Regions from separate parts of the Homo sapiens genome. Here region 1 is linked to region 2. Evidence: fine-mapped expression QTL. A gene starts in region 2. The other region holds a variant in brackets. All regions are shown on one strand. Distances are between the middles of the regions. Region 1 overlaps GLB1L2 (galactosidase beta 1 like 2). Region 2 holds the start of GLB1L2 (galactosidase beta 1 like 2).

Region 1 (4,314 bases), 39 kb after region 2:
CCTTTCTCCCTCCTCCGGCAGAGGTTTTGAAAACCGTGTCTGCCATTGTGGACGCCGGCTCCTCCATCAACCTCTACATGTTCCACGGAGGCACCAACTTTGGCTTCATGAATGGAGCCATGCACTTCCATGACTACAAGTCAGATGTCACCAGCTATGGCAAGTATTCATCAGCACTGCTCTCCCTGGTCTGCCCTGCATGGGCATGGCTGGGACTTGCTATGGAGAGGCCCTCAGGGTCAACTTCTGGCACCTTCGTGTCTTTGGCAATAGAGTACCTGGAGAAGGTACTTGCCTGGACAGTCATGTTACACTCCCAGAGGAGGGAAGCCTCAAGGGAGGTGGTGTGCCTGTGAGCTGGTCACTCTACAGAGAGGCCTCTTTGGCAAAGGTTGGCCTGAGGAAGTGGAAGGAGACCGCCCTAGGGGGACAGGGAGGGACGGTGGCCTCCCCTCCCTGCCCAGGCCCTTGAGGAGGTGTGATCCTGCCTCCTTTAGGTTGAGAGTCCCAGAAAGTAGAAATTACACCTGCAGCTAGAAATTTAGGGCCATGCTGTGATCATGGACAGTTTGTGTTTTTTTGAATTTGTGAGAGAGTTATCACTCTGACACCCAGGCTGGAGTGTAGTAGTGTGATCATAGCTCACTGCAGCCTCAAATACCTGGGCTCAAGTGATCCTCCTGCTTCGGCCTCCTGAGTAGCTGGGACTACAGGTGTGCACCCCCACCTCTGGCTAATTTTTAAAATTTTTTGTAGAGGTGGGGGTCTCGCTATGTTGCCCAGGCTGGTCTGGAACTCCTGGCCTCGAGCGATCCTCCTGCCTTGGCCTCCCAAAGTGCTGGGATTACAGGTGCGAGCTGCTGCACAAGCGATCCTCTTGCCTTGGCCTCCCAAAGTGCTGGGATTACAGGTGTGAGCCACTGCACAAGCGATCCTCCTGCCTTGGCCTCCCAAAGTGCTGGGATTGCAGGTGTGAGCCGCTGCACCTGGCCTTATGGACGCTTGTTGTAGTTGCCTGGTCTTTCATGTTTACAGTATTTTGACTGAATGGCTCAAAAGTGTCTTGCCTCCCCAATGGCTGAGATGAAGACCTGTGGCCCTTCCAAGCTTCTCCCTGTTCTTCGTGCTACATGTGCTGTGCTGGGGACAGGAATGACCATGACAGGGCCCGGTGTCTTGCAGACTATGATGCTGTGCTGACAGAAGCCGGCGATTACACGGCCAAGTACATGAAGCTTCGAGACTTCTTCGGCTCCATCTCAGGTACCCAGCAGACAGCAGACTCAAGTTCCAACTCAGGCCCTCGCTTCTGCTCTCAGACCCCTAAAGAGTTACTTCCTTACTGTCCCACCTCGACCCCAGTTGATCTGCGTGCAAGAATATCCTAGACAAGGACAGGGAGGTGTGTGAGGCTGTTTCCATCTTGCCGGCTTCACCTGTTACAGGTGTTAACGCTCCTTATCTCCTGTGGAGGACGGGAGAACGCCCTGGCTTTCCCCCAGGCCTGGCCTTCCTCCCTGGCCTCAGCAGGTGCTGAGAGCTAGCCTGTTGTTCCTCTTGGTGCTGGGACGCAGGAGCACATCGGGTCTGTGGATGGGAGCCGGGTGGGGAGGACGAGCAGGCAG[T/C]GACATTTGGGTCCGTTGGGGGTGACCCTGTTTTCTGTGTTGCAGGCATCCCTCTCCCTCCCCCACCTGACCTTCTTCCCAAGATGCCGTATGAGCCCTTAACGCCAGTCTTGTACCTGTCTCTGTGGGACGCCCTCAAGTACCTGGGGGAGGTGAGTGCTGTGGGCAGTCATCGGGAGGTGAGTGAGTGCCGGGGGCAGTCGTTGGCAGGGAGGTGAGTGCTGGGGGCAGTCGTCGGCGGGAGGTGAGAGTCGTCGGGGCAGCAGGGCCTGGAGCCCCTCCAGACAGGGAGTGTGGGGGGAGGCAGGCCAGTGCCTGGTGGCTCTGGGGTCTGCTCTCCGGCCTTGGAGCTCAGAGGGAAGAGGACAGACTCATGCTGGAGTGTGAAGTGGGAGAAACAGAGGTCCCTGAGGAACAGCGGCTGGCCCCGTGGGCCTTTCCTTCCTCCAGCCTCAGAGAGGAGAGTGAGGGGCAGAGGAACAGGCCGTCCCCTCCCCAAGAAGGGGGTGCCTCCTCCGGCGGACTGAGGCTGTGATGTGTGTCCCCTGCCTGCGGACTGCACTCTGCTGGTGCACACCCCTTTGCCCCACTCCTCTTCCCCGTCACCCTGGAGAGTTGTATGTTTAGTGCAATGAGAAGTCAAAGTAGAAAACACCCACCAAACCTCCGCTTCCACCCCATGTGCCAGCCCCCAGGCAGAGTCTGTCTGTGACCCCACTCCTCCTGAGCCTGCCCACCCCTCCATCTCTTCTGTACGCAGCCAATCAAGTCTGAAAAGCCCATCAACATGGAGAACCTGCCAGTCAATGGGGGAAATGGACAGTCCTTCGGGTACATTCTCTATGAGACCAGCATCACCTCGTCTGGCATCCTCAGTGGCCACGTGCATGATCGGGGGCAGGTAGGAGCTTCTCTTCTAAATTCCTGTGACCTTCTGGTGAGCAGCTCTGCAATAGGCGTCTCATGCCCTCCCCTCAGAATCAGCTCTTACCAGTGTGTGACAATGGCCCTTCTGAGTCAGCTCTGTGAGCCTTCAGGGGGCATTCATGTCTGCTCTGCCCACTGGCCCCTCGTCTGCCTACAGGCACGCGTGCTGCCCTTCTTGGCCTGGAGGAGGTCCCGCTTACCCTCCTCCTGTTGGTCATGGATGTTCCTGCCTGTTCCCTTTGGCAGGTGTTTGTGAACACAGTATCCATAGGATTCTTGGACTACAAGACAACGAAGATTGCTGTCCCCCTGATCCAGGTTCGTTGTTTTTGGGAGCTGGGTGATGGCTAGCCCCCGCTGCTTCGAGGAAGTCTGGGGGCAGTCACTGAGGAAAACCTGGGAGACCCGTGGCTCCTTACCCACAAGCTGTAGGTGGAGAGGGCGAGTGTGGCTTTCTGCCCAGCTGGGATGTACACTCCCATCCCCAGAGCGTAGGGAAGAACTGGGGTCCACAAGCAAATTCTGAGGGGCAGCTGTGGCCTTCTGACAGTCATCGTTAGCCCCGTGTTCCCGGCAGGGTTACACCGTGCTGAGGATCTTGGTGGAGAATCGTGGGCGAGTCAACTATGGGGAGAATATTGATGACCAGCGCAAAGGTGGGTCCCAGAATGTGTCAAAAGAAGAGTGGCCATGCTGGACACACAGGTGGCTATTGCTTCTCTATGCTAGCAGGCCACCAGGCCATGGAGGCCTCTTGCAGGGAGGTGGAGGCTGGGTTGTCCCATACATGAGGCCAGTTCTGAGTGGGCCAGAGAAACTCCGCTGGGCTGTGGCCCCTGTCCTGTTAGCACTGCACGCGTGCATCGTCTGCGTGCTCGTGATAAACACTGTGAACACTGAGCTGGCCTCTTGTCTCCCCTGGGCTGCAGTCGGTTTCTGCAAGGATGTCTGCTTGGGGGGGCGGCAGTGAGGAGCAATGAATGTGATTTCCAGGAATCCAAGGAAAGGCACAAGACCCCTGCCTTCTTGGGCCTCCACACTGAAGTTCTCTTCTTGATCCATCTTGGGAAAGCTTATCTCAGATGTTGGGGGAGGAGGATGCGGGACATACAGCAAACAAAACACCTGTTGGTAGCGTACCCCTCTGGGAATAGGCCGCCAATTTGCTTTATGTTTCCTGGCCTACTAAATCTTTTATGCTTTAATTTAGCCCTTCCTTTTTTTTTTTGAGACGGAGTCTCGCTCTTTCACCCAGGCCAGACTGCAGTGGTGCAATCTCGGCTCACTGCATGCTCCACCTCCCGGGTTCATGCCATTCTCCTGCCTCAGCCTCCCGAGTAGCTGGGACTACAGGCGCCCGCCACCGTGCCCAAATTTAGCCCTTCCTTTTTAAAAAAAATCTAGCTAAATGTGGGTGGTTTCAGGTAAGTTATAAAAAAAGAACTCAGAACAAAATGAATGCGACTGTGGTGAGCAGCACCGGTGACCTCCCAGCTCTCTCACGGTGTCTGCGTTTGTGACGGAGGAAACTTGAAGAGCTCTTATTGGTCCACATTTCCTCCGAGAGCCGTCTGGTGGCCTGCCAGGAAAGCCACGTGGCCCAGACACTGGGGCCTGGATCCTGGGGATCAGGGCCCTTCTAGATGGGCCTCAGAGCGGCATCTAGCACCACCCAGGCCCACACTCCTTTACCCTAGACAGCTCCCTCTCTGGGCCTGTCCTCACTTCTGTTGTTCTCCTGGGAGTTGGAAGGAGCACCAGC
Region 2 (4,383 bases):
GCCCCCCTCGGCCTCCCAAAGTGCTGGGATTCAGGCTTGAGCCACCGCACCCGGCCTAATGTTTTAAAAAACAAAAGTCTCAGGCTGGAAATGGTGACTCACGCCTGTAATCCCAGCCCTTTGGGAGGCCGAGGCAGGTGGATCACCTGAGGTCAAGAGTTTGAGATCTGCCTGGGCAACATGGTGAAACCCCGTCTCTACTAAAAATACAAAAATTAGCCGGGGAAGGTGGTGGGTGCCTGCAGTCCCACCTATTCGGGAGACTGAGGCAGGAGAATAGCTTGCATCCCGGGAGGCATTGCAGTGAGCTGAGATTGCACCACTGCACTCCAGCCTGGGTAACAGAGTGAGACTCTGTCTCAAAAAAAAAAAAAAAAGTCTCAGCCTATGAGCAAGACGCATCTCGGGTTAGTGCTAACTTTGTAGCATTCTGTGGTATCATTAAGCCCAGATAAAGTAAAATTGTTCCTAGACTGTGAGCAGGGTGTGTCCCTAGTTCTGAACATCCCACAAGGTTAAGGGGAAATTTTTTTGAAAACACTCAGTTATGTATATTTTTCTCGCACAAATAAAAACGAAGGATACAAGGGTGGGCCAAGGAGTTCACGGTTTTCACAACCCATGTTAAGTTTTTGCTAACGTTTGAAGAAAAATGGAGATGCTTGTATTGCTTAAACCATTTGAGAATTCCCTTATATTTGATAGATTCTGCCACTGTTCAACGTGACCAGAAGTGAGAGGATGAATGTGGGGTGCATGTCTTTCGGATGGTCCCCTGCAGGCAAAGGGGCTAGCCTTTGACAATTTCTCCACACGCTTCGGGGCTAGCTGGTATATTCCAATTAAACCAACATGTTTCCATCACAGACTTCATAGCCATCAAGCAATCATAGCCTTACCCAATGGAGAAAAGGAGCGGGCTTGGAGCGCGTCCACGGGAGTGGGCCTCCCTCTGCGCGCCTCTGGGAATGTTTGCGGTGCTTAAGTCAGACCCGGATTGCTCCAAGCCCAGCTTATCCTCCCCAGTTCTGCCAGGGTTTTTTTCCTCTTGTTTGTTCGTTTGTTTTTGCCTCTCTTTGATTTAACTTTTGCTCCTTGACTAAATATGTGCTTAACGCTAGACAAAGGACACTTCATACCCAAGTCTGTGTCTTTGTTCCAAGATCTGCAATTTCATTTGGTTCCTGTCGGCTTTACAAGTTCAAAACTATGCCCCCGTTTAGGAAATGAATTCAAAGCATGCGGCAAGGGAGACATTCGACAAACCCGGATGCTCTGGAAAACGTTGCCCTTCCTCGAGTTTCTTTCAGTAAAATCTGAATTTTGTTCCCGGGAGGAGTTGGGTTTGTGATTGCTACAGTGTAAGTTGCACCGAAATACTACATCATGTTCTTTGGGACATACATTCTGTTTCAGAATAAGAATGATATTCTTCCTTTCCTAAAATGTGAGAGTTTTATATGGACCTTTTTAAAATAAAAAATTGGAAGCCCTTGGAGTCAAGGCCAGAGTAAGACTCGCAGAAACCAAAGACAGAAAATATTTGGAACCCCCCCTCCTCAGACATGAACCACACTGAAATGTGTCCAGATACAATTCTTCAAAATCCTGGCTTTTCACAGGATGATTTGTTATTGAAAAAGTTGTTTGCTTCAGAATCTGAATTGTTTTAAAAGATTCTGTTGGTTGCCCCTGCTTTGCGGACGCCTTTTGTACGTTCTTCCTGATGTAGCGCTGCGAGGGGCGACTTTACCTCGGCGTTTGACAGGTACGCAGCATTCCCGCACCCGCCTGCGCCTCGCGAGCAGAAAGACGGCGGACTCTGCACCGCTCCACGACACTGGGGACCCGCCCCGGCCAGACCCGTCCCCTACCGAGACCTTGTCCCCGCCCCGCCCCCGGCCGGGGCCCCGCCCCGCCAGCCCCGCCCCCGCCAGCCCCCTCTCCTACCGAGACCTCGTCCCCGCCCACCAGCCCCGCCCCGCCCCCCCCCCGACAGAGGCCCCGCCCCGGCCCCGGCCAGCCCCGCCCCCGCTTGCGCGAGGCCTAGGGCTGCAGGCGCGGAGCCGCGAGCCCCAGCCAATGAGCGCCGGCGGGCCGGTTGCCCAGGCGACCAGTGCGCGGCTCCGCCCCCCGCGGCGAGGCTCCCGCGCGCGGCTGAGTGCGGACTGGAGTGGGAACCCGGGTCCCCGCGCTTAGAGAACACGCGATGACCACGTGGAGCCTCCGGCGGAGGCCGGCCCGCACGCTGGGACTCCTGCTGCTGGTCGTCTTGGGCTTCCTGGTGCTCCGCAGGTGAGAGAGAGCTTCGCGCAGCACCTGCCGGACCCCACATTCCCCAGCCCTCCGCACCTCGGGTTCTCTCCTCCCGCGACCCGCGAATCCCGAGTTCCCGGGGGGAGCAGCCCCAGCTGCTTCTTTCTGGGAGCTCCCCAATACCCCCGAGTTCCCCTGCGGCTGCAGGCACTCTACTCCTGCCGCGCGATCCAGGCCTCTGGGCGACACCCGGCGTGCCCTCGGGAGCCGGCGTCTGTGCCCCGAGCCGCCCACCCCGCCGCGCCTGTGACGCCGGGCTCTGCCCCCCGTGGACGCCCGCAGCCCTCCAGCCGTCAGAGCCCTCTCAGACGCACCCCATCGCGGCCCCGTCCCCACTGCTCCGCGGAGAGCTCCCTCTGCCCTTCCCCCAGGCCCCCCTTTTCCTCCCAAGCCTCTGGGAGGCGCCTTATTCCGCAGAGGCCGGCGCTTCAGCCTGGCAGGTATGGTCTAGCCAGCTGGCCTGGCAGGGTCGTAAGAACAGTGTCCGTGGGCCTCCAAGATCCCGGGCCATGATTTATTTGCACAGTAGGACTGATAGGTCGTCTCTCTCCACTTTCCCACCATTCACCTGTTACCAGCTCACCCTTTCCTCTCCCCCTTTTCCAAATGTTGTTTATGGCAAAGGAGTGGCTTCAGTGATACTGTGATTTACCCACAGCCTGTGAAAAAGTTTTCTGGGTGCCCTAGCCCAGCATTTTTCTAAACTGTGCTTATTTTAAGGATTCTACAGCCCTGACCCTATCTTTCAGGTCAGCACTTTCCATATTCAAAACCTCCAGTGGGAAGCCGACCGGCAGTATCGAATGAACTGAACGGTTGGAAGTGGTGGCAGGCCCTACGCCGCTCGGCTTTGTCATTTGCTTCTTTTTTACTTAGAGAAACTAAGTTCTTAGTTTCTCTGCACTTCCCCTGGGAGACAGGGAAGTTTTTGATGGAGATAAATATCTGGAAGTCCTTTGTGGCCAGAAGAACACACTGACAAACTCTATGTTTACACCTTGTCAAGACTGGATTCTTGTTTCTGAGATAGTGGGGACGTCATGATATTGTTTGGGAGAAGGACGGATTTTCTTCTCATTCTGGGGCCCAGAAAACTTCAGGCATTTAACTTCTCCGGTTGTTCCCAAGATGTTTTCTGTCCTGCCTAAGATCTCTAAGCCATTCCTCTCTGAAGATTGGCCCTGGCTCCTGTGGGATGCTCAGCTTTCCTCCCTGTGCAAGGCTTACGCAAACCCCAGAAGAATTACTCAGAGCAGCGGCAGCAGATCCTCCTGCATACAGCAGGGTAGCAAGGCGTGCAAGCTGCCAAGAGAAAGGCTAGCGGCTGCAGGCCTGTTGTTGGTCAGGGATACAGGAGTCCGTGCAGGGGACCCAGGCAGGTCACTATTTGGGGCAGCACTGTGGGCTTGAGATGGGCTGAGTGGTACACCCAAAAAGTCCCCAGGAAAAGGTATGCGAAGGAGGCTGAGGGTTTGTTATTGTTTGGTGGGACAGAGGTGAGGTGGCAGGGAGCTGACCTAGCTGGGAAGACGCCTGAGCTTCTTTGAGGTGAGGTAACTGTGTCCCCACCTAGGTGGGGTGACCGCACTAGGAGTCAGTCTTGGGCCATTGGAGCAGGTGGAATGGCAACAGAGAATAAAGAGCTGCAACCAAATTCTGTGAAAACAGTTTGGCCTGCCTGGGAAGGATGTTTTTCTTGCCTCTCCATCCTTCTAGCAGGTAGAACAGAAGCTCAAGGAGCTCTGAACCAAGTTCAGGGCCGTGTCTTCAGATCCTGTGGAATACGTGTCTTTTTGGCATCTTTTTGATTTTTTCACCCTCATGGGTACATTCTGCCAGTTCCTCCTGTCTGACTTGGGCTGGACACCAGTGAGTATGAGTTGCTGTAATATCTCTGGAGGCAGGAGGAGAACATCCTCTTTGTCTTTCCCTCTTCCTGTCTTGCCCCAGCTCTGACTGGGTCATTAACTGAGTGGGAGGTGGGGCCTCTCCCAGCTGTTACTGGGCAGTGTTGAGGTGGCCAGTGGAATATAGGTCACGTGGAAACTGGCCACCAAGTTCACTCTT

The links. PIP is the estimated chance that this variant, and not a neighbour inherited with it, causes the effect.
Region 1: its variant is the best candidate, but not a certain one, in a credible set for the expression of GLB1L2 in lung (TOPMed, PIP 0.52).

The regions. Positions count from the first base shown.
Region 1 is chr11:134,368,623-134,372,936 of GRCh38, forward strand. GLB1L2 (galactosidase beta 1 like 2) reads left to right here. Exons shown (of 19, transcript NM_001370461.1): 10 at 22-159; 11 at 1,183-1,263; 12 at 1,671-1,777; 13 at 2,386-2,526; 14 at 2,799-2,870; 15 at 3,130-3,208. Among named protein-coding and RNA genes, the nearest start is that of GLB1L2, 39 kb to the left of the region's middle. The variant T/C (reference allele first, on the strand shown) is at 1,626.
Region 2 is chr11:134,329,853-134,334,235 of GRCh38, forward strand. GLB1L2 (galactosidase beta 1 like 2) reads left to right here and starts at 2,136. Exons shown (of 19, transcript NM_001370461.1): 1 at 2,136-2,295. The coding sequence starts at 2,210. RefSeq lists a silencer at 1,986-2,285.